Regions from separate parts of the Homo sapiens genome. Here regions 2, 3, 4, 5 and 6 are each linked to region 1. Evidence: fine-mapped expression QTL. A gene starts in region 1. Each other region holds a variant in brackets. All regions are shown on one strand. Distances are from middle to middle. Region 1 holds the start of PRUNE2 (prune homolog 2 with BCH domain). Region 2 overlaps PRUNE2 (prune homolog 2 with BCH domain). Region 3 overlaps PRUNE2 (prune homolog 2 with BCH domain). Region 4 overlaps PRUNE2 (prune homolog 2 with BCH domain). Region 5 overlaps PRUNE2 (prune homolog 2 with BCH domain). Region 6 overlaps PRUNE2 (prune homolog 2 with BCH domain).

What was found. PIP is the estimated chance that this variant, and not a neighbour inherited with it, causes the effect.
Region 2: its variant is the best candidate, but not a certain one, in a credible set for the expression of PRUNE2 in testis (GTEx, PIP 0.86).
Region 3: its variant is the best candidate, but not a certain one, in a credible set for the expression of PRUNE2 in cerebellum (GTEx, PIP 0.54).
Region 4: its variant is the best candidate, but not a certain one, in a credible set for the expression of PRUNE2 in T cells (GENCORD, PIP 0.51).
Region 5: its variant is the best candidate, but not a certain one, in a credible set for the expression of PRUNE2 in B cells (Fairfax 2012, PIP 0.63).
Region 6: its variant is the best candidate, but not a certain one, in a credible set for the expression of PRUNE2 in whole blood (INTERVAL, PIP 0.88).

The regions. Positions count from the first base shown.
Region 1 is chr9:76,903,907-76,907,995 of GRCh38, reverse strand. PRUNE2 (prune homolog 2 with BCH domain) reads left to right here and starts at 1,882. Exons shown (of 19, transcript NM_015225.3): 1 at 1,882-2,068. The coding sequence starts at 2,033. RefSeq lists a silencer at 1,753-1,812.
Region 2 is chr9:76,664,487-76,668,575 of GRCh38, reverse strand. All of the region lies in intron 9 of PRUNE2 (prune homolog 2 with BCH domain), which reads left to right. LOC105376095 (a long non-coding RNA gene) reads right to left here. Exons shown (of 12, transcript XR_007061586.1): 12 at 4,037-4,089. Among named protein-coding and RNA genes, the nearest start is that of PCA3, 98 kb to the left of the region's middle. The variant C/G (reference allele first, on the strand shown) is at 1,867.
Region 3 is chr9:76,723,788-76,727,876 of GRCh38, reverse strand. The region is part of intron 6 of PRUNE2 (prune homolog 2 with BCH domain); the gene reads left to right. Among named protein-coding and RNA genes, the nearest start is that of PCA3, 39 kb to the left of the region's middle. The variant C/T (reference allele first, on the strand shown) is at 1,892.
Region 4 is chr9:76,704,552-76,708,640 of GRCh38, reverse strand. It overlaps PRUNE2 (prune homolog 2 with BCH domain), which reads left to right. Exons shown (of 19, transcript NM_015225.3): 8 at 1-3,880. Among named protein-coding and RNA genes, the nearest start is that of PCA3, 58 kb to the left of the region's middle. The variant G/A (reference allele first, on the strand shown) is at 1,686.
Region 5 is chr9:76,634,562-76,638,650 of GRCh38, reverse strand. It overlaps PRUNE2 (prune homolog 2 with BCH domain), which reads left to right. Exons shown (of 19, transcript NM_015225.3): 13 at 363-465; 14 at 1,102-1,233; 15 at 2,094-2,180. All of the region lies in intron 6 of LOC105376095 (a long non-coding RNA gene), which reads right to left. Among named protein-coding and RNA genes, the nearest start is that of PCA3, 130 kb to the left of the region's middle. The variant C/TAC (reference allele first, on the strand shown) is at 1,642.
Region 6 is chr9:76,694,584-76,698,672 of GRCh38, reverse strand. All of the region lies in intron 9 of PRUNE2 (prune homolog 2 with BCH domain), which reads left to right. Among named protein-coding and RNA genes, the nearest start is that of PCA3, 68 kb to the left of the region's middle. The variant G/A (reference allele first, on the strand shown) is at 1,697.

The DNA of each region.
Region 1 (4,089 bases):
TTCTGAATAAAAAATAATTGGATCATGAGACACACATATACACACAGAGACAGACAAGAAAACAGACACACATTGAGACAGGAGAAATAGAGCAAAAAAAAAAAAAACCCTTCCATATGTACCTTTTTTCATTAAAACATATTTATTGAGGACCTGTATATGACATGAACATACATCATGTTAGGGTTCCATCAGTGAATGAGACAGGCAAGGTCCCTGTCTTTACAGAGCTCACAGCCTGGTGGAGGACATAGACAAATAATTATGCAATTTATAGCAGAGTGGAAAATGTAAGTTGCTATGAGGGAATACAGAAGGGGCAACCAACTCAGTCTGGGGATGGGAAGGGAAAAGTGTGTTGGGGAGGCTTTCTGGAGAAAGAGAACTTCTACGCCACTCACTGTCAAAGTGTGGTTTTTGGATCAGCAGCATCGGCAAACCCTGGGAGATTGTATACATGGACATTCTCAGGCCCATTAAGCCACACCTATTAGGGCTAAAATTCTAAGGATGGGGCACGGAAATCTGTGTTTCATCAAGCCCTCTAAGTGATTTAGATACATGTAAAGTTCATCGAGAATCAGAGCATCACACCTGAACTGCACATTAGAATCACTTGGGTCACTTTCCACAGAAATGCTGTGGCCCCATGCCCAGAGATATTAATTTAATTGGACTGGGATAAAGCCCTGGTATCAGTACTTTCTCAAGTCTCAGGTGATTACGATGTGATTTTACTGTGCAGTCAGGGTTGAGGCTACTTCTGTAGAACAGCTGAGGCTGGGGGCTAGGACAAGGGCTGGAAGGATCTTACAGGTGGTGTGCAAAAGCCCAGAGGTCAGAGAAAGCCTGATGTAGTGTGTTTGGGGACCGGACAAGGCTACATACAACAAAACCCCATGATTTAAAATAAGGTTTGTAGATATAAGTTCATTTGTTCATTGTAGTACTTCTTAAACTTTAACAAGCATAGAAATCATCTGAGGGTCTCATAGAAACACACAGATTCTGATTTGGTAAGTAGGAGCAGGGGACTGAGGTTCTGCATTTCTATAAGATCAGCGATGCTGATGTTGCCGGTCTGCAGACTGCACCTCACCTTAGCAAGGTTCTATTGCCCCAGCTTTCCCTGAGGGTACATGTCAGTGGATGGGAACTGCAGAAGGATGTATCTATGCATTAGTCCCAGGGCTGACATAAGGGCACCTAGTTGGGGTGAACTGTGGATGCCCATTGTTGTGTGGACATGTTTTCATGGTAGGGAGGAAAGACGCAGCCTCGCCCAACCTCCTAGCCTGCTCTTCTGATTATTATCCATCAAGGTCGTACTGCTTTTAGCTCAGCAGTAACTCCCCTCTTTCTCTCCTCGTCCCTCCCACGCCAATCTAGCTGAGTGCCTCCCCCGGCCAGGCCAGCCGACCAGATCATTAAGTGACCGCCGGAGTGCTCCGTAACGCGCCAGCCAGCCAGTGAGGCGCTGGGCGAGGCGGGGGCTCTCCTGGGACCCGTCTCCCTCTTCCCACCTTCCCCCGCTGACCGCGGCGGTGCCTGCGGCAGAGCCTCCCTCTGCAGCAGCCCCTTGCACTTGGCTCGCACTTCTGGGCGCTGTCCATGGTTGCAGCAGCTTTCGGCGCGCCACGTCAGGAGGCCGCAGCACGGCCCTGCGATTGGCGGAGGAGCCCCTCGCCATACCCCTGCACCTCCGCCCACGCGCCACGGCGCCCGAGGCGCGTGCCAGAGAGCGTGCCCGGCGCGCCCCGGGGCTCCTGGGCGGCACACCCACTTTCCTTATTAGGGCAGAGTCGGGTGCCCAGAGCCGGCGGCCGGGCGAGGGGTGGGGCGGGGAGCCCTGGGCGAGACGGTCGAGGGCGCAAGCACAGCCTCCGCCGCAGCCGCCTCAGAGCGGCAGGAGGGAGCAGTCGGTCGCTGCGCCCCGGCGGGCCACTTTCCCGGGACCCCGCTCGTCTTCCTTGGGCCGAGATTTTCCACTGCGCCCCTCCGAGTACCCGGGTTCCAAACCCCTAGCCACGACATGGAAGAATTTTTGCAACGCGCCAAATCTAAACTGGTAAGTTGAGTGAGCAAAGCTGTGTGTGTGCGCGCGCGCGTATGCTAATGGAAAGGTGGAGAGGAAAAGGTGTTGCAGCAGAGGAGGAAGAAACAACTTTGCCACGGAGTTATCAGGGTGTGCGGGTTGTCTCCTGGAAGAAATCTCAGGAACTCTGGCTCTTAAAGCTGGCAATCTGTCTCCAGAATCCTCCACCGCAACCAGACGAGGTGCAGAGCTGAAGGAGGTTGTGGCCTGGCTGAAGTTGGGTCGCTTCAGTCCAGCTTCGGTCCCTAAATCAGCAGTTTGCTCCTGAAAGCTAAGGGATAAATGGGTGTGGTCTTCCTTGAGATAAAGAGCCCAGCCTTCTGCAGATGCATTACGTGTAAGTGTAAAAGGAAAAAAAGAGACCCTTAGAACTGTACTTCAGCTGGAGGTGACAAAAGTGAGGAAGTCAGGGTGCTGGGTAGCAAGGACATGTGTGGTACTGGAGAATCCACAGAATAGAGCTTGCTCCACTGCAGGAGTTAGGGATATTCTAGTGTGTCTTGTGTCTCGCTAATTCCTGTTCACATCTGTAAATTGGGGCGGAGGCAGAAGGGGAAAGCTCTAACTGTTGGTGTTCTGGAGTTTACCAGATCATCGTTCTCCCGGGAGCAGACCTGTGTGTTAGCCCATGTTTACCATATCACTGTCCAAACAGTGAATGGGCAACTCCACTGTGTATGTTAACAGTTGCTACACATTCTGAAACAACAGACTCTAGCAGTTTCTTAATTCCAAACTGTTTTGGCTCTCCAGCACAGCAGTAATAAACATAATGGAAATGTTTCTGTTTTGGCAGAAAAAAAAAGAAAAGCCTGTACTCATTTAGAAGCAATATCTTTAAAGAACTGTAAAAGCACCTTTTACAGGCCTGGCATAGAAAGAAATGCATAATTTATGATGCCTTTAACCTTTAAGCCTTCATAGAAGCCAAAATGTAAAGTCTGCATTAAGGTAATGTTTTAATCACAAGGCAGGATATTTGCAGGGTTATTACTGTAACTCATTTACCCTCGCACAACAAAGGGAGTGCAGGAAGGGAGGGCCCAAAGATGCCTGAACCACCATTCAGAGTGCAGACGGAAGTGTGATCCTTACAATGGTCTAACTGTAACTATCTTGTAAAAGACCATTAAAGTTGATAAGTGCTTATATAAAACTTTCTACCTGAAACCTCCCAGAGAGTTGAACGTTTGTGGAGATTTCCGAGTTGAGGAAGTTTGTGATCATCTCTGTGTTTATTGACCCTTTTATAGTTTTACTAGAGCACATGGATGAAAATACTAATTTCAGAAACTCAAGTAAGTATTTGGCATTTCTGATAGTATAAGTACATGTTCTGTTCTTTACCTAGTAATGAAGGAGAAATGTTCAAAAATGAAAGACAATTTTGGCAACTGTGCGTGTGTGTGTATGAAAATGGTAATCAATGACAAACACAGAGTTCTGGGCTGTATCTGTTTTTCACTCCCATAACATTTATTTATCAATATTTTCACAATAAACATTTAGACTGTGGGGTCTGATATGAGCAAGAGGTTTGTCTCAATTCTGAGGAGCAGTTGCTGGAATGGAAGTTTCCCTATTTCCGAGTAATGAGTTGAAAGTAATCTGTAATTTATTTACCCTTCATTAGACGAGCAATTGCTCTACATCATTAAAAAAAAAAGGACAGGAAAGAGAAGCGGTTGTTTGAAATATTGTTACCAGTTTCATGTCTTAGCCAGAACAATTACTGCTAATTTTATCGTTTCTTGGAATAAGCTTCTTCTAGAAATCATGATTAACCTTTCACATCCAGCCACAGCAAAGGTGTGTTGGTCACTTTTAGTGTCATATTTTCCTGAGAAGTTACATTTTCTAGGTAATAAGATTTTTACTTAATGTATGACACTCAAATATAGTAGTAGATAACATTCTCCTTTAGAGGGTAGATAACCTTTTTCTTGGAGAAAAAGAATTAAGTCAATGTCATTCACTTGTGGGAAATTTATTTA
Region 2 (4,089 bases), 240 kb after region 1:
CCCTCCCACCCAGGCCCTTTTCACAGATCAGAATCCTGGGGTAAGAGGAGGAATGGGAGAACCCTTCCTATCCCAAATTCCCTGAAGCACAGCTTTGGTTGGCCCAGGTAGGAGAGTGAAGGAGATAGAATTTTTAGATGAGAAACTGGATGTTTTAAACTAGATTAGATTTTAGTAATTGAAAGTAACAAGATAGCATGATGTAGGGAAGGAAGATTCAGCATAGCACAGTTGGGAAAATCAGAGATCTGAGAAATTTTTAATTATTTCGTGTTTGCATGATCATCAAATTCAGACTGTTTTTGAAAACCCTCCAGTTTTGTTTTTGTATTTTTACAGTAAACATCTTTTTACATATATCTTGGTATATACCTGTGAGTATTCTGCACTATATATTCTTAGAACAGCTGGTCAAAGGCTATGTGTATTTAAAATTTTGATGACTACAACCAAAAACTGTACCTCAATTTATATTCCTTATAGAAACACATTTGGGTGTACCACTTGCACCAATATGAGAGCTTCACAGTTTTAAATATATATTCAACTTTAAGAAAATGAAATGTTATTTAAGTTGTTAGACTCTAGGACAGCGGTTGTCAAACCTCCCCCTACGCTACCCACCAAGCCCAATCCAGTCAGCCACCTATTTTTGTCCATAAAGTTTTATTGGAACACAGCCATACCTATGCATTTACATATTGTCTATAGCTACGTTTGTGCTAGGACAACAGAGCTCAGTTGTTGCCACAGAAACTGTAGAGCATGTAAAGCCCAACATATTCAGTATCTAGCCCTTCCAGAAACACTGTGCTGATTCCACCTCCAGAAAAGTCAAAGGCAACCCTCCCATGTCCTGCAGATTAGCAAATATAACTGCTGAGCAGCAGTTGAAGGAATATCTTATCTATGTGTGTTCCTGTGGTTCATATTTCTGGTGCCAGCTTGTCCAAGGCATTTGGATGACTTCACACTCTTGAACTACTTGGGGCAGGAAGTCAGACTGCAAGAGTGCAGCTTTGCATTGCACTGTGGGGAAGGGGACCCTTTGTGAGCTTATCTTATGGGCAGGAGGGTGGGGCAGGCAGGCAGTCTTCCCAAAGTGTAAATCCCAGGAGATGCTGAGCAGGTGAAATGGGGGCTGCAGATGGCAGGAGCCTATGCTGCCAGCCCAGCCAGTTCTGCTGCTCACTTGGGCGTCCTGCAGATGCTGGCATCCCTGGCATTGAAGATTGTCTCCAATTCTGAAGAAAAACAATGGTCTACTTTTCCCCCTTCCCTTCGGAAGAACCTCATTCTTTCAAATTCACTCCCAGTTGCTCCTAATATTATCAAAGAGCTTTTACTGTTGGAGGAGAGAGCACAATATGTGCCACACCAGAGAGTGACCGTTGCCTAATTGGGTTCACAGTGATGACTTCTTTGTAAAACACTCCCATAAGCATCACCTATATTTCTAAATTATGTTTTGACAAAAGCTAAACTTCTTATCAAAAGGAATTTGTTGGAAGAGAATTTTCTTTTTTTTTGTGACAGAGTTTCGCTCTTGTTGCCCAGGCTGGAGTGTAATGATGCGATCTTGGCTCACCCCAACCTCTGCTTCCTGGGTTCAAGTGATTCTCCTTTCTCAGCCTCCCAAGTACCCGGGATTACAGGCATGCACCACCACAGCCGGCTAATTTTGTATTTTTAATAGAGACAGGGTTTCTCCATGTTGGTCAGGCTGATCTCTGTAGGGTCCAGCCCCACAGGGTCAGTGGGTTTTTCTCCCTGTGTGCGGAGACGAGAGATTGCAGAAATAAAGACACAAGACAAAGAGATAAAAGAAAAGACAGCTGGGCCCGGGGGACCACTACCACCAAGACG[C/G]GGAGACTGGTAGTGGCCCTGAATGCAAGGCTGCACTGTTATTTATTGGATACAAGGCAAAAGGGGCAGGATAAGGAGTGTGAGTCATCTCCAATGATTGACAAGGTCACATGAGTCACGTGTCCACTGGACAGGGGGCCCTTCCCTGCCTGGCAGCCAAGGCAGAGAGAGAGGGAGAGAGAGAGGACAGCTTACGCCATTATTTCTGCATATCAGAGACTTTTAGTACTTTCACTAATTTTGCTACTGCTATCTAAAAGGCAGAGCCTGGTGTACAGGATGGAACATGAAAGCGGACTAGGAGCGTGGCCAATGAAGCACAGCATCACAGGGAGATGGTTAGGCCTCCGGATAACTGCGGGCAAGCCTGACTGATGTCAGGCCCTCCACAAGAGGTGGAGGAGTAGAGTCTTCTCTAAACTTCCCCGGGGAAAGAGAGACTCCCTTTCCAGGTCTGCTAAGTAGCGGGTGTTTTCCCTTGGCACTGACACTACCGCTAGACCACGGTCCGCTTGGCAACGGGTGTCTTCCAAGGCCCTGGCATTACCGCTAGACCAAGGAGCCCTCTGGTGGCCCTGTCCGGGCATAACAGAAGGCTCACACTCTTGTCTTCTGGTCACTTCTCACTATGTCCCCTCAGCTCCTATCACTGTATGGCCTGGTTTTTCCTAGGTTATGATTATAGAGTGAAGATTCTTATAATATTGGAATAAAGAGTAATTGCTACGAACTAATGATTAATGATATTCATATATAATCATGTCTATGATCTAGATCTAGTATAATTCTTGTTGTTTTATATATTTTATTATACTGAAACAGCTCGTGCCCTCAGTCTTTTGCCTTGGCACCTAGGTGGCTTGCCGCCCACAGATCTCGAACTCCTGACCTCAGGTGATCTGCCCACCTCAGCCTCCCAAAGTGCAGGGATTACAGGTGTGAGCCACCACGCCTGGCCTGGAAGATAATTTTTATGGTCAAGTTTCACTATGTGGTGAGACATTCTGAGGAGCACTTTACCCAAAGGGCAGGGCACCTTCACGTGTCTAAATCTGTGTTGTTCAATAGTGACTCATTCATCTCCACCATGTGCTGAGCCCTGTGCTAAGCACTGGGTGTGCTTGTCCCCCAGGAGATTCATGTGTGTGTGGAGAGGGTGGCAGTGGGGAGGAGTGGGGGCAGACACATTTCAAACAGGAAATCATAGGAACATGGCAGCATCCACGTGAGGTAAGCACAGGGTGCTATGGGACATGACCCGACTCTGTGGGGAGGAGGTGAGGTCCCAGGTCCCCACTCTGTGGGATGGAGGTGAGGTCCCAGGACCTTACTCTGTGGGGTGGAGGTGAGGTCCCAGATCCCGATTCTGTGGGATGGAGGCGAGGTTCCAGGATGGAGATGTCCACACTGAGTAGTACAGGACAGCAAGATTGGCAAGGCTAAGTGGGGAGTGGGGAATGAGAAAGGAGGCTTGAGTCTGGGCTTAGGGGCCAGGTCAAGAGGGCCTTGTGAGCCCTTCTCTGAAGCCAAATTCTTTCCCTGAAGTGGTGAATTGAAAGGATTTAAACACAAGAAGGTGGTGTCAAGGTTAAGATGAAGAAGGATATTAGTTATAATTTGGAGGAGGTAGGGATGACGATCGTAAACAGAAAGGTGGTGATGTTTCTGCATGAAAAAAATGAACTTGAACTAAGGCTTTTGTAGTGAGAATGGAGTGGAGAGGATGACATAAATTTATAGGATTGGATGGCCAACTGGATGAGGAAGAAATGGTGGGAAAGAAAAGAAAGTAAGAGTGAATGCCAGTTTGGGAGCTTGAGTGCCCAGGTGATATGTAGAGACATTCACTAGGATGAGGAATGTATTAGTTAGCTATTGCTGTATAATAAATAATCTCGGCCAGGTGCAATGGCTCATGCCTGTAATCCCAGCACTTTGGGAGGCCGAAGTGGGAGGATCACTTGAGCCTGGGAGTTGGAGACCAGCCTGACCAACATGGTGAAACCCCATCTCTCCTAAAAATTAGCTCGGCATGGTGGTGCACGTCTGTAATCCCAGCTACTCGGGAGGCTGAGGCAGGAGAATCACTTGAACGCAGGAGATGGAGACTGGAGTGAGCCGAGATCGCTCCATTGCGCTCCAGCCTGGGCAATACAGCAAGACCCTGTCTCAAAAAATAAATGAATAAAATAAATAATATCAAAGTTTAGCAGCTTAAAACAA
Region 3 (4,089 bases), 180 kb after region 1:
CAAGCATGGTGGCTTGCACCTGTAGTCCCAGTTACTCGGGGAGGCTGAGGTGGAAGGATCACTTGAACCTGGGGGCAGAGGTTACAGTGAACCGAAATCACCCCACTGCACTCCAGCCTGGGTGACAAAGTGAGACCCTGTTTCAAAAAAAAAAAAAAAAAAAAAAGCCCTGTTTACCCATAACTAAGTTGGAATAATAGTACAACTTTGCTTGACAAAAAAAAAAAAAAAGAAGAAGAAGAAGAAAGAAACAACTCTGGAAAATACCTGGGTAAACTTCATTTTCCTGGAATAGGAAGTAGATGTTTTATAAAATCTTGGCTCTTTTAAACCATCCTGCTGTTTTCTTTGTTTAAGAGAATCGAAGCTTGGTTTCATTTATAAGCACAGCAATCTAAACTAAAAGACAATTGATGGAAAGATGTTATTTTTACTGGCTTCGAAAAAGGAAATATTTGGCCAATTAATAAAAAGTATTCATGTAGATGCTCCCCATCCCTGATTTACTTTTCTAGTTCTCCTGCCTGTTAAACCAGGCAGAATTAACCATGTGTCTTGCTTTATGTAGTAAGATTTCTGAAACAGTTGAGTGTGACTTGAATTATTTTGTAAGCTCCTAAGAGTCTCCTGCTGTTTTTCTCTAAAGCAGTGGTTCTTAACTGGGGTGATTTTGCCCCACAGGGGACATATTTAGTTGTCATAACTAGGGCAGGGAGCTTGCTACTGGCATCTAGTGGGTCAAGGCCAGATATGCTATAAACACCCTATAAGGTACAAGACAGCCCCCACAGCAAAGAACTGTCCAGCCCCAAATGTCAGTAGTGCCAAGGTTGAGAAACCCTGGTCTAAAGTTATTACTTTTTATCTGTTACGAATTTAGGTTTTTTTCTGTATTTGGCTTGCTTAGAGCCCTTCTATAAATCACTCTTGTATAAAATAATGACAATTAAATTACTACTCTTGTTCCACCAGAGTGAGCCCAGGTATTCTCTGCCTGGAAGGCTGGGCCTGTAGAACATTTCAAATTTGTATTTAAAGCATTTTAATGCCTCATAGATGGTACTAATAGCAATGGAAGTTTGACAGTTATAGTGGAGATTTGAGCTTCTGAAGACTTCAAGGGCCAAAAAGAGAAACACCCTCATGTTGACCTGAAAGAATAAAGATTAAGGAGGCTTGACTGCTTTTTCCTGGATTGTTTAAATAGTACAATGTATTTTCAATTGATTCAGCATAATTTTCATTCTCTAAGCTTAACGCTTTTATAGATTTATCACTCCTCTTTTTAATACCCTCCTTAATTGGAGCGTAAAATAAAAATTAACATGAAAATAAAAGTTAACTAAATTGTCTCACTAAACTTATCTTTCCAAGCATCATGATTCTCCCTACAACTAGGCTTGGTTGGTTGGAACTAAAATGGGGCTTTGGGAAAGTATCTGATGAGTGTGCATGTGTGTGTTAGAATGTATGTGCGTGTGCCTGTGTATGCGTGTTACACCTTCGTGCTTGATGTCTAAAGTGCCCACCTATGGGCTTATCTGCTCAGCATCCCTCTTCTAGGAAGTGACTCTTACCCACCAACTTTGTTATAACTGGTGTGGTGTCTGTGATTTGTGGTCTTTCCAATCTACCTCAATTGTTTTGCCCAGAGATAGGCACCGAACCCAAGTGGGAACAACCAGAGTTCTTTCTCCAGGGTTTTCAAACTCATGACCAAAAGGGAGTCGTGACTCATTTGGCAAGGTCTACACAGAGATGCTGCAGCCACCTGTGGTTCCCACCGTGTAGAGGATGCCAGTTGGCTGCAGGACAGCAGAATGCAGCCAGAAGAGGATGGAGAGGCAGGACGACCTGCATATCCCTGGCAACCCCTGCCCTTCTCCCAGCG[C/T]GTGCTCAGGCTCTTCTTGGCTTCTGTGGGAACACTCCCCAGATCCTGCTGACTTCTTTCTCTACTTAAATCAGTTACAGTTAAGTTTCTGTGACTTGTGACTGAGACAGTCATGACAGCAGCATCCTTACCTGAAGAGGGATTCCTCCAGCTTCTCAAACACAGCCATCTCCAAACAAAAGTAAAACCACAAACCCCAGAGTGTATCTGTTTTCAGGAGGGGGTTTCTGGTAATTAGCTTAGACTGCAACAAATGGTACACACAGACTGCTGGCTCTGCATGTGTGCTCCAAGATTGGTGTTTACCCTATATATGCCAATTTAAGAATGTCATAAAGTTTATCAGTGAGCAAATGGAAATGAGCAAGAACACATAGATGGGTGGTGAAAGGTGTGTGCCTTGATAGATAGATTTTTTTTTTAGACTTCAAAAAAAACTAATTACTTTCATTGGGTTGATAGCAAAGGGGGCACAACCATATTCCCCACTTAAGCTTGGCGATGGTTGGGTATTTTTAGCAAATGAGTTGTCAGCAGAGAGGCTTCATTAGACCCATCAGGATATCTGCCCATGAAGAACGAATCCCAAACTGTACTGACACTTTCATTGAGCCAAAATGATGAAGCACCTCTGACAAGAGCCATATTGTGCTCCCCATGCAAGGAGCGTGAGGAACAAAAGAGACAGTTTGATCTTCATTTGGTCAGGTTAATATTGACACAGCTTAGAAAAATCAGAAGTGTGTGCAATGCACACGTGCAGAAAGTGCTCTGGAGACTTGCCTTGTGGTTTCCATAAATCAGAAAGGGGAACCCAGAGAGGAAAAAAGGTTTTCCTGCTTTCTTGAAATTGGGTTCAAACTAGATGATTTATTTTTACAAAGGAAAATAAAGCTGTCAGTGTTCAGGCTCATGGCTCAAAACAAGCCAACAGGGACTTTTTTTTTAATCTATACATAATTATAGAAATCATTCATTATTATTATTTTTATCTGGGAGCTAGAGTGTAGCCCAGGTTCTACCATTTCAAAAATAGAGCATGGCTAATGAGCGGGGTTTCATTACATGTGTGTCCTGAATTATTCGTTCCCGTATAGAAATCCTTATAAACATACAGAAACAAAAAGGGGCCCTTAAAGGAAACAGCAGTCTAGCCCTTTCCTTGCCAAGCACTTAAGTCCATCCAATAGAGGAAAGTTTTCCTGATTATGGGTCTGTCCTTAAAGAAAATGTAAATTAGGCTGTTAGTTAATGAGGTGATGACTTATTTGTCTTTGATTGGTTGTGAAACTCCCCCATTCAAGTATTCAATCTATTATTAACTGCTTGTAAGAGTGCCTGGGACTACTTTTATTCCAGGCCCAACTCTCTGTCTGTGTAACAACAGTGCTTCTTTATGGAAGATAGGATGGGATGGAAAAAGATGGGAAAGAATTTTAACTCCCTTATTTGAGGTGTGCCTGAAATCAGCCCACTTCATTTCAAGAAGTTCTTTTTGTGTGTGTCTGTGTGACAGGGTCTTGCTCTGTCACCCAGGTTGGAGTGCAGTGATGGGATCTCCGCTCACTGCAACCTCCACCCCCACCCAGGCTCAACCAATCCTCCCATCCCAGCCTCCCCAGTAGCTGGGACCACAGGCATGCACCACCATGCCTGGCTATTTTTTTTTTTTTTTTTTTTTTGTATTTCTATCAGAGACAGGTCTCACCATGTTGCCCAAGCTGGTCTCGACCTTCTGAGCTCAAGTGATCTGCCCGCCTCAGCCTCCCAAAGTGCTGCGATTATAAGCATGAGCCACCGCACCCAGCCTGATTTCAAGGAGTTCTTAACCTGTGCTTTCAGATGAATTATCTCCCAAACATTTTCTCTCTCCCTTCATTAATGATATGCTGGCCGGGTGCGGTGGCTCACGCCTGTAATCCCAGCACTTTGGGAGGCTGAGGCGGGCAGATCACAAGGTCAGGAGATCGAGACCATGGTGAAACCTCATCTCTACTAAAAATACAAAAAGTTAGCCGAGCGTGGTAGCAGGCGCCTGTAGTCCCAGCTACTCGGGAGGCTGAGGCAGGAGAAGGGCGTGAACCCAGAAGGCGGAGCTTGCAGTGAGCCGAGATCGCACCACTGCACCCCAGCCTGGGCGACAGAGCGATACTCCATCTCAAAAAAAAAAAAAAAGAAAGATATGCTTATAGGAGGTA
Region 4 (4,089 bases), 200 kb after region 1:
GGGCAGCTAATTGCAAACAGTATTTGGGATTCTGTCATGAGAGATAAAGACATGTCATCATTCATGTTACCAGGCTCCTCACATATCACAGATTCAGAGCAAAGGGAATTGCCTCCTGAAATCCCCAGCCATTCAGCAAATGTTAAAGACACTCATTCCCCAGATGCGCCAGCAGCCTCTGGAACCAGTGAATCAGAGGCACTTATATCTCATCTTGACAAGCAGGACACAGAGAGGGAAACCCTGCAAAGTGATGCAGCATCCTTGGCGACTAGGCTTGAGAATCCAGGGTATTTTCCACACCCAGATCCATGGAAAGGTCATGGCGATGGACAAAGTGAAAGTGAGAAGGAAGCCCAGGGAGCCACTGACAGGGGGCACCTTGATGAAGAGGAGGTGATCGCCTCTGGTGTGGAGAATGCCTCAGGGATTTCTGAAAAAGGGCAGAGTGACCAGGAACTGTCTTCTCTGGTTGCATCTGAACATCAGGAAATCTGCATTAAATCAGGCAAAATCAGCTCTCTTGCTGTCACTTTCAGTCCTCAAACCGAGGAACCAGAGGAAGTTTTAGAGTATGAGGAGGGGTCTTACAATCTAGACTCCCGTGATGTGCAAACAGGGATGTCCGCAGATAACCTGCAGCCAAAAGATACCCATGAAAAACACCTCATGAGTCAAAGAAATTCAGGTGAAACTACTGAGACTTCAGATGGGATGAATTTCACAAAATATGTATCTGTACCTGAAAAGGATCTTGAGAAAACTGAAGAATGTAACTTTCTAGAGCCAGAGAACGTGGGTGGAGGGCCACCTCACAGAGTTCCCCGAAGTCTTGATTTTGGGGACGTCCCTATAGACAGTGATGTGCATGTCAGCAGCACATGTTCTGAGATAACCAAAAATCTTGACGTTAAGGGGTCTGAAAATAGCCTTCCAGGAGCCGGTTCGTCTGGAAATTTTGACAGAGATACTATTTCTAGTGAGTATACTCATTCAAGTGCATCAAGTCCTGAGTTAAATGACTCTTCAGTTGCACTGTCCTCCTGGGGCCAGCAACCCAGTTCTGGGTATCAAGAAGAAAACCAAGGCAACTGGAGTGAACAGAATCACCAAGAATCTGAACTAATTACCACTGATGGCCAAGTAGAAATAGTTACCAAAGTGAAGGATTTAGAGAAAAACAGAATAAATGAGTTTGAAAAGAGCTTTGATCGCAAAACTCCTACATTTTTAGAGATCTGGAATGACTCAGTTGATGGTGATTCCTTTTCCTCTTTATCCAGTCCTGAAACAGGCAAATATTCTGAACATTCAGGGACACATCAGGAAAGCAATCTAATTGCTAGCTACCAGGAGAAAAATGAACATGACATTTCTGCAACTGTGCAGCCAGAGGATGCCAGGGTCATTTCAACAAGCTCAGGTTCTGATGATGACAGTGTCGGTGGTGAAGAGTCAATAGAGGAAGAGATCCAGGTGGCCAACTGCCACGTTGCTGAGGATGAATCCAGAGCTTGGGATTCATTGAATGAATCTAATAAGTTCTTGGTCACAGCTGATCCTAAGTCTGAAAATATTTATGACTACCTAGACAGCTCAGAGCCAGCAGAGAATGAGAATAAGTCAAACCCATTCTGTGACAATCAACAAAGCAGCCCTGATCCCTGGACTTTCTCACCATTAAC[G/A]GAGACTGAAATGCAGATTACAGCAGTGGAGAAGGAGAAGAGATCTTCTCCAGAAACAGGGACAACAGGAGATGTTGCATGGCAAATATCTCCCAAAGCTTCGTTCCCAAAGAACGAAGATAATTCTCAACTGGAAATGCTGGGCTTCTCAGCTGATAGCACTGAGTGGTGGAAGGCCTCACCCCAGGAAGGGAGACTAATTGAAAGTCCATTTGAAAGGGAGCTGTCTGACTCCAGTGGTGTGTTGGAGATAAATTCTTCAGTACACCAAAATGCCAGTCCCTGGGGAGTACCAGTTCAGGGTGATATTGAGCCCGTGGAAACACACTATACTAATCCTTTTAGTGACAACCATCAGTCACCCTTTCTGGAAGGTAATGGGAAGAACTCCCATGAGCAACTCTGGAACATTCAACCAAGGCAGCCAGACCCAGATGCTGACAAGTTCAGCCAGCTTGTAAAATTAGACCAAATTAAAGAAAAGGACTCAAGAGAGCAAACCTTTGTGTCTGCTGCTGGTGATGAGCTGACTCCTGAAACACCTACCCAAGAGCAGTGTCAGGACACCATGCTGCCAGTCTGTGATCATCCGGACACAGCCTTTACTCACGCAGAGGAAAATAGTTGTGTTACATCTAATGTTTCAACTAATGAAGGTCAAGAAACAAATCAGTGGGAACAAGAAAAATCATACCTAGGTGAGATGACAAATTCAAGCATTGCCACAGAAAATTTTCCTGCTGTCAGTTCTCCCACCCAACTGATAATGAAGCCAGGCTCTGAATGGGATGGCTCTACCCCAAGTGAGGACTCCCGAGGTACCTTTGTGCCAGATATTTTACATGGCAACTTTCAAGAGGGTGGGCAGCTGGCCTCTGCCGCGCCTGACTTGTGGATAGATGCTAAGAAGCCCTTCAGTTTGAAAGCAGATGGTGAGAATCCTGATATCCTGACGCACTGCGAACATGACAGCAATTCTCAGGCTTCCGACAGCCCTGATATATGTCACGATTCTGAAGCAAAGCAAGAGACTGAGAAGCACCTCAGTGCTTGCATGGGACCTGAAGTGGAATCCAGTGAGCTTTGTCTCACTGAGCCAGAGATAGATGAAGAACCCATTTATGAGCCTGGACGGGAGTTTGTCCCATCCAATGCAGAACTCGATTCTGAAAACGCAACTGTGCTGCCTCCAATTGGCTATCAAGCAGACATAAAGGGCTCCTCTCAGCCCGCCTCTCATAAAGGTTCACCTGAACCTTCTGAAATAAACGGTGACAACAGTACAGGTTTACAAGTATCAGAAAAAGGAGCCAGCCCAGATATGGCACCAATTTTGGAACCAGTTGACAGAAGAATCCCAAGGATTGAAAATGTGGCAACTAGCATTTTTGTAACTCACCAAGAGCCAACTCCAGAAGGTGACGGTTCTTGGATATCAGACAGCTTTTCTCCTGAAAGTCAGCCTGGTGCAAGAGCTTTGTTTGATGGTGATCCACATTTATCCACAGAGAATCCTGCCTTGGTTCCTGATGCTTTGCTAGCCTCAGACACTTGTCTGGATATAAGCGAAGCTGCCTTTGACCACAGTTTCAGCGATGCCTCAGGTCTCAACACATCCACGGGAACAATAGATGACATGAGTAAACTGACATTATCCGAAGGCCATCCGGAAACGCCAGTTGATGGGGACCTAGGGAAGCAAGATATCTGCTCATCTGAAGCCTCGTGGGGTGATTTTGAATATGATGTAATGGGCCAGAATATCGATGAAGATTTACTGAGAGAGCCTGAACACTTCCTGTATGGTGGTGACCCTCCTTTGGAGGAAGATTCTCTGAAGCAGTCGCTGGCACCGTACACACCTCCCTTTGATTTGTCTTATCTCACAGAACCTGCCCAGAGTGCTGAAACAATAGAGGAAGCTGGGTCTCCAGAGGATGAATCTCTGGGATGCAGAGCAGCAGAGATAGTGCTTTCTGCACTTCCTGATCGAAGAAGTGAGGGAAACCAGGCTGAGACCAAAAACAGACTGCCTGGATCCCAGCTGGCTGTGCTGCATATTCGTGAAGACCCTGAGTCCGTTTATTTGCCGGTAGGAGCAGGCTCCAACATTTTGTCTCCATCAAACGTTGACTGGGAAGTAGAAACAGATAATTCTGATTTACCAGCAGGTGGAGACATAGGACCACCAAATGGTAAGAAACATTCCATTCTTCCACTTCCAAGAAACTGCTGCGTTGATTAAACTAGTGCATATTTGTAAGACACACTCTTCCTACCAATGAGGGTAGAGAGAAAACTAACTACATTTTCAAGGCATGCCTCACTAAGTCCTGTATTATAACAGCAGTAAAATCTAGTGCATATGTAATACCTATTCCTGATAGTGCACGAGAAAATCGAA
Region 5 (4,089 bases), 270 kb after region 1:
GATATAAATCTGACATTTAGGTCAGTCTTGCCCCCTCTCATTTTTTTGTGATGTCGAATATTTACACACCCTCTTCACAACTATGTACAACAATATAATCATCCGTAATATATAAATAGCCTACATATGCAAATATAATTGCCCTATATATTTAACACTCTATAAAACATAGATGTTAACCACTGAAAGATAACTATATGGGTATATACCTACAGACCTATAGTCAACATAATCCCCATTTCATGCTGCTAATATACCCACAAAGACACACTTGCCAAGGCTTCATATTTATCCATTAGGTCAGATATTACCTTGTTAAGAGCTTTCAATTGGTTACAAGTGTCTTTTTGTTTGTCCCCCAGGATACTATGGGGACGGTCTAAATGCCATCATTGTGTTTGCCGCCTGTTTTCTGCCAGACAGCAGTCGGGCGGATTACCACTATGTCATGGAAAATCTTTTCCTGTGAGTGATACTTATGACAAAGTGCTTTGAGTTAATGTCTGTGGCATGTAATGGCAGATAGAGCACCTTTAATTAAAGAAAATAGATGATGTAGAATGTTCTAAGCCTTCAGTGAAAAGTCAGTAAGGTTTCTGTCAAGGAATGTTGCTCAAGGGGCTAAAACCTTTAAAGGAGCTCTTTTGTGGGTAGACTAGACTGAAACCAAGATGAACAGAATTTTGCTTGCATTTTAAAATTCTGTAACATTTCCTTTGGGCAAAGTATTATTTTTGTTCCTTCATAACATGTTCTTAGTCAGCTAAGACTGACTATAACCTGACTTCATTAATATCTGCCCTTATTTAACCTGAGTTACCCTTAGTATTTGATAACATTGTTGACAGTTTTGAAAGTCAGGATTCTTTCTAACCCATACATTTTTCTAGTGTACCTCCATTTAAAAGATAGATAGCCATACCGATAAATGAGTAATACTCTCAGAGGAATGCTCTTAGGTAATTGTATTCTTCCCAAGGTAAAGAGGTAATATGCACAATCATTCTTAAATTTCATACACCCTGTACTTTTGATGTTATGTAATTATGGTGTCAATAGGATGTGGGAACTGAAAACATTCCTCTTCCTTCCTGTGATCAGATATGTAATAAGTACTTTAGAGTTGATGGTAGCTGAAGACTATATGATTGTGTACTTGAATGGTGCAACCCCAAGAAGGAGGATGCCAGGGCTAGGCTGGATGAAGAAATGCTACCAGATGATTGACAGACGGTATGTGGGCTCTATTATTTAATCACTATTTTGATTTTGGTAAACTGAAGACTAAACAACCACATGGTATACTGTTATTATCTTCATTATACACAAGAAGAAACCAAGTCTCAATAAGATCAAATAAATTGTCTAAGTTGCTATTAAGCATGTATTCTTTTCAAAATAGTAAAGGTAATACTGACGAGAATAAAAGCATCATTAAACAAAAATACACCATGTTGGTTATAGATTCATGCACTCTAAGAACACAACCATTCTATTTTACATTTACTTCTATGAGAAAATGACGTTTGAATCATACAAGTTTCAAATTACATCTCAAAAAGCATTCTTGTAATTAATCATGGCCATTCTATATCTTCCTACCAGGTAATAGTAACTTGCATAGAACTCCCTAAAATTATA[C/TAC]ACACACACACACACACACACACACACACACACACATTTTTGTTGTTGTCGTTGTTGTTGGAGTCTCACTCTGTTGCCTAGGCTGGAGTGCAGTGGCATGATCTTGGATCACGGCAACCTCCGCCTCCTGGGTTCAAGCGATTCTCCTGTCTAACCCACTGAGTAGCCAGGACTTACAGGCGGGCACCACCACGCCCAGCTAATTTTTTTATTTTTATTTTTATTTTTATTTTTAGTAGAGATGGGGTTTCAACATGTTGGCCAGGCCAGTCTCAAACTCCTGACCTCAGGTGATCTGCCTGCCTTGGCCTCCCAAAGTGCTGGGATTATAGGCATGAGCTACCATGCCAGACTTAAATTATATATATTCTTATTTAGGAATATGTTTTATGTTTTAATTCCCACTGAAAATGGGTTAAGAGTAATGTATTTTTTTTCTTTTTTCAAAATAGGTTGAGGAAGAATTTGAAATCATTCATCATTGTTCATCCATCTTGGTTCATCAGAACAATCCTTGCTGTGACACGACCTTTTATAAGGTACAGTTAATGTTGTCATAAAATAAAAGTACTACTAGTAGTTTTAAAAAATATGTACTCATTGTCCTAAAAACAAGAATTCATAAACTAAGAGTACCCAGGGAAATATATTTGTCTCTGTCTTTCCTAGAAAGGTGCTTTGGACTATTCATCAAGAATCCCGAATTAAGAGAGAAAATGCTGTCATGATGAATATTTCCCCCAGATCATTATAAAACAGGACCTCTAAATTGCTTGCTATAAACACGGAAGATGAAGTGGTGGGATTTTCATGCCACATTAGAAAGGAGAATAGATAATACATTTAAAGTGATATGCTATTATGTAGAGAATAGAAAGGTAGAGTAATATGACAATGGAAAGTAAAGATGAATCAAGGGCAGAAACAGAAGCCATATCATGTCTCAATTGTGCCATTTCTTCTGAATAGACCTACACAACGTTTATATAACTACCAAAGTTATATAGAGTCTGGGCAGCCATTTTGAGAGCTGTGTTTTGATCACCCCTGAGGAGTCTTGGTTTCAATTCAGTGAATATTTATTTGTCACTTATTTTATGTTAGGTTTTGCATAACCTTACATCTTAGGGATGCAAAGTAAAATAAGTTATGTTCATAATATAGTAAGACTTCAAATAGTTAAATGAAAGGGATAGTATTTACTTTCTAGATAGCTTTAAAAACAATAAAATTTGCCCACCATCAGGGTACAGATTAGATTAATTGAAATTTTCCCATCTCAAAGTTATTAATGAATTTCTTTTAAAAATTCTGATAACTTTGCTTCTGGGGAAAAAGATAAACTTTAAAATCTTTTTTTTGTGTGTACATAGATTTTACTGTAGCTTCCAAATTCTACCTTTCTTGTTAAGTATTTAGTTATATTTATTTATTATTCTTATTCCCCACTTCCAATTGCTAATGCTGAAAAATATACCTGAAAATCAAGAATTGTTAAAATGGTAAACTGAAGGCTAAACAATCACATGATATACTGTTATTATCTTCATTATACACAAGAAGAAACCACTGAAAAAACGAAGTTATCAGAATTTTTAGACGAAATTAATTAATAATTTTAAGATGGGAAAATTTCAATTTATCTTCAATTGAGTAGCAGGATTCACCCTAGTTTCCCTCTGGCAAAGATTAGCTGTTTACCATACTGTGTTAAATTGCTTTTAAAAATATTATGAGCAGCCAAGCGGGGTGGCTCACACCTGTAATCCCAGCAGTTTGGGAGGCCAAGGCGGGCAGATCACTTGAGGTCAGGAGTTTGAGACCAGCCTGGCCAACATGGTGAAACCCCATCTCTACTAAAAACACAAAAAATTAGCCAGGCATGGTGGTGGTGTGCCTATAGTCCCAGCTACTAGGGAGGCTGAGGCAGGAGAATCGCTTGAACCTGGGAGGAGGTTGCAGTGAGGCAAGATCACACCACTGCACTCCAGCCTGGGCAACAGAGTGAGACTGTGCCTCCAAAAAACAAACAAAAATATTAGACCTATTTAAGGTATACAAAGAGCCACTTATTTTAATATTTTCAGGAAATGTTGTAACTAGGGAGTAGGAATCAATGTATGCTGATAAGCTTTCAAAAAGTTTAATGGGTAGAAAGGTAAACATTAGCATAGTTACTGATTCATCGATGTTTGCTTAATAATTCAGCACTTATAAAACAAATGTTTTTTCTTGATTAAGTAATGTTAAAAGATAAACTTTAGACAAATCAATCAGTTTATTAGAGCAAAAAATGATTTATGAATCCAGCATGACTTAGAACCAGGAGAGGTTCAGAGAGCTCCTCCCAGCAAAGTGGGCAGACAGTATTTGTCCAGAGAAAAGCAAGGTGATGTATAGAAATAGCTTGATTGGGTACAGCTCAGCAGTTATCTTATTTGGGTACAG
Region 6 (4,089 bases), 210 kb after region 1:
TCCACGTGAATGTTGAAAATGAGAAATAGATTTTAAAAATCAGTTGACTCTTTCTCTCAGTGTTGGATAATGGGAACCCTGAGAAACATCAGGCAGACCAAGCTGTACCCCAGTTCTGAACATTTGCCGTTTCTCAGAGGTGAGTTGATGCTCTCTAAACTCCAGTGCGCCCTTGCCTATTCACCATTTTTGGGCTTTGCCCTGTACCAAACCTGGAAGAACAAACTTAGCACTGACTCTGTGTTCATTTATTTTTGTAATTATATTTGATCTGTTGGTGTGGTATGTTGGTGAGTTGGTGGTGATAAGTATCATTAAAAGTCCTTTGCCGGGCACGGTGGCTCACGCCTGTAATCTCAGCACTTCGGGAGGCCAAAGCGGGTGGATCACCTGAGGTCACGAGTTTGAGACCAGCCTAGCCAACACGGCAAAACCCCGTCTGTACTAAAAATACAAAAATTAGCCAGGCATGGTGGCACACGCCTGTAATCCCAGCTACTCGGGAGGCTGAGGCAAGAGAATCGCTTGAACCCAGGAGGCGGAGGTTGCAGTGAGCCGAGATCACACCACTTCATTCCAGCCTGGGTGAAAGACCAAAACTTTGTCAAAAAAAAAAAAAAATCCTTTACATTTGCAGTTTAATTCAGGACTTAGTCTCTTTCCTTCATTTCCTTCTTCTCTCTTGCTTTCTCTCTCTGTCATGCCCTCCACCCACTTCTACATTTCTGGCCAGCCCTACCCAGAGCAGACTTTCCATAGTAAGTGCTTGCAGACTGACAAATAGATTATTTTCTTTGGTCCACCCAAATGACACTTGAGATAGACAGGGCAAGTGTTCCTCTCCCCATTTCCCAGCCAGATGAGCAAACTGACTTAACACATGAACTGCTTCATGTCATCCAGAAATGAGAAAGTGGTGAGGTTAGGACCTAAATTTAAGTCTTCTCTGTCTAGCCCAGTGGTTGTCAATGAAACACAGCTGCCCAAACAAGCATTTCTCTTGAGCTGCTTCTATAGGTTGATGTTTTCATTCCTGTTCTCCCGTTATCTCGTTGAAAGGCACATAAAGTGTAACAGGAGATATTTTGAGACAGACTGAGCCAGAACCCATGCCTGACTCCTCAGACTGTCTTGTGACCTACTGGGCTTTTTTGATACCTGAGTAAATATTTGCTCCCACGGTGGATCTGTGAGTGCTTGTGCCATGTCAGTGGGCTGCTCCCCATCTGTGGTGTGTGGGACCAACTCGAGTGGTTGGAGGCCAGAGGGAAGGGAGAGCATCAAAGCCCCTCAATGTTCATTTACGTTTTCCAAATATTTATAGGTGTGGTATTTTGTGGTGAGGGATTTTACAGCCAGAGAGAGCCACAAGTGCCAAGATGAGGTGGTGCAACTCTGTTTCCCCGTGGGAGGAACGCCCACAAAGGAGTCCATTTGTGTTGTATTGGCTTCTAGTTTGAGGAAAAACCCAAGGTGCTTCTCTGGCTGGAAACTTGAAACATCACAACTAGTGGCATTGCTTGCTTTAGGGGGAAAAAAATCTCTATGAAAATTGCTGGTATTTGAGGAAGACAAGAAGCCATGACTTTCGAAAGCAGGGTATATTCGCATATCAGGGGCACAGCAAGAAAGTGATGACACATTCAAATTAGGAAAATTTGAGAGATTTAATAAAGAGAGTATTTACGAAGATGGA[G/A]GCAAAGTGTGAGGAACTCACAAGGAATAGTGCGTAGCCCAAGAACAGGAGCAGTACGGCTGTTATTCTTCCTAGACCCCAGGAGTGGGGAGACAGAGTGATGACCAGAACCCAGAAAGACTATTTCAGGTAGAAAAGGCCACCCTGAAAGGCATAGTGACCTAGTGTGAGGGACACGGCCAGCGGGAGGCACTCCCGCCTCTTCCCCCGCATCTCCCACCAGGGATCCTCACTGGTCAAAACCTAGTGGAGGCTGGGCGTGGCGCCTCATGCCTGTAATCCCAGCATTTTGGGAGGCCAAGGCGGGCAGATCACTTGAGGTCAGGAGTTTGAGACCATCCTGGCCAACATGGAGAAACCCCGTCTCTACTAAAAATACAAAAATTAGCTGGGTGTGGTGGCGGGCACCTGTAGTCCCAGCTACTCGGGAGACTGAGGCATGAGAATGACTTGAACCTGGGTGGGGGAGGTTGCAGTGAGCCGAGATCATGCCATTGCACTCCAGCCTGGATAACAAACAAACAAACAAACAAAAAACCTAGTGGAAGTCGGAGGGTGAGGGAGGCTTGGGGCAGAAAGCAAAATGGAGAAAGTAGGAGAGTAGAGCTGACGAAGCAAACAGAAGCTGTTCAGTGCAGCTAGCCGAATTGGAGAGTGGTGGACCTCAGCCTCTGAAAACTGTCCTGAGATGTTCCTGTGCACGATTAGTTAACTGTTTCTCCAGTACATTGGAGGATCAGTTTCTGAGATCTATGTAAGAGTTCTTCAGGAACAAAGGCTATCAAAAAGTCAGTGCAGGATTGGGTAACCCTTTGTAGAAGTCCAAGCTGCCGGTTCTGAACCAGCAGGGAATACTTGCTGACGTCGGAGACATTTTGGTTGTCACAACTGGGGTGGGTACTGCTGTCATCTAATGGGCAGAGGCCAGGGATGCAGTTACATATCCTACAGTGCACAGGAGTGCCCCCCGCCACACAGGGTTATCCAGCCCCAAATGTCAACACTGCCAGTGTCGAGAACTCTGCTCCATCTCTCTGCCTTATTTTATTGCTACTACTTTTTTTTTTCCATCTGAAAAGATCTTCTATTTACTTATTTATTTAATTGATTCTGTTGCATCTGTCTCCACCTATGAGAGTATAACCCCCAAGAAAGCAGGAGTTTGGTTTGTCTTGTTCATCACGGTACCCCTGTTGCTTAGAATAGCACCTGCCACATGTTAGACACCCCATAAATAGGCCTGATTGAATGAATAGAAAAGAAAGGGTAGTTTGCTCAACATAATTTGCTTCTAATGACACTGTGATAATTTCTGGCATTTGTTGCTTCTTTTCCCAAGGGAGATGTGCTAGTTTTAGTTTGGAAGGAATATGCATCTTTCTTTTCTCAAGTTACCAAATCCATCTTTTTCCTTCTTTTGTAATTTGAGGCCATAGTTACCCATTTTCAGTGTTCCCATGCCTTTCTTGTTCATTACAGTTCCTCCAAGATTCTTTCAGCCTTTCAGTTTTCTTAGAGTTTTGTTAGTCACTCATCCTCATGGGGAGAAAATAGGTGTGTCTGTTCAATTTTCCTTCTTGGTCATCTGTTGCCTATACCATGGGTATTATAATCTCTTCACCTTGAAATAACTTCTCCTGGCTGGGCGCGCTGGCTTATGCCTGTAATCCCAGCACTTTGCAAGGCTGAGTCGGGCAGATCACGTGAGGTGAGGAGTTCGAGACCAGCCTGACCAACATGGTGAAATCCCATCTCTTCTAAAAATACAAAAAAATTAGCCAGGCGTGGTGGCACACACCTGTAATCCCAGCTACTTGGGAGGCTGAGGCAGGAGAATTGCTTGAACCTGGGAGATGGAGATCGCAGTGGGCTGAGATTGTACCACTGCACTTCAGCCCAGGTGAACGAGTGAGACCATCTCAAATAATAATAATAATAACTTTTTTTATTAGAGAGGAACATGGTTTTATTTAATTAGTCATCTATTATACCATCAACTCAAGCAGCTGTTGATAATATGTAATCTTCAAAGACCTTTTTATATTTATTTTTTAAACTTCCATTTATTAAATAATAATTTAAAAGTATTAATTAGGCTCTCAGAGAATAACTAAAACTCCACTGGAGAATTTGACATCTACGTGCCCTTTTTTTCAACATAATAGAATGCTATTTACTGCAGTTAAGCAGTAATTCTTATTTAAAAAAAATTTTTTTTAACTGCCTTTGTATAATGAATAAAATAATGCATTTCCTCAAATGCCCAGCATACTCTGAGTTAGGACTGTTTTGCCCTGGCACAATCTGTGAGAACATCTTGCAAGACAAAAAGGAGTATTACTGGTGATAACCTATGTCCCACATTTCCATTTAATGAAGTATTACTTAAAATG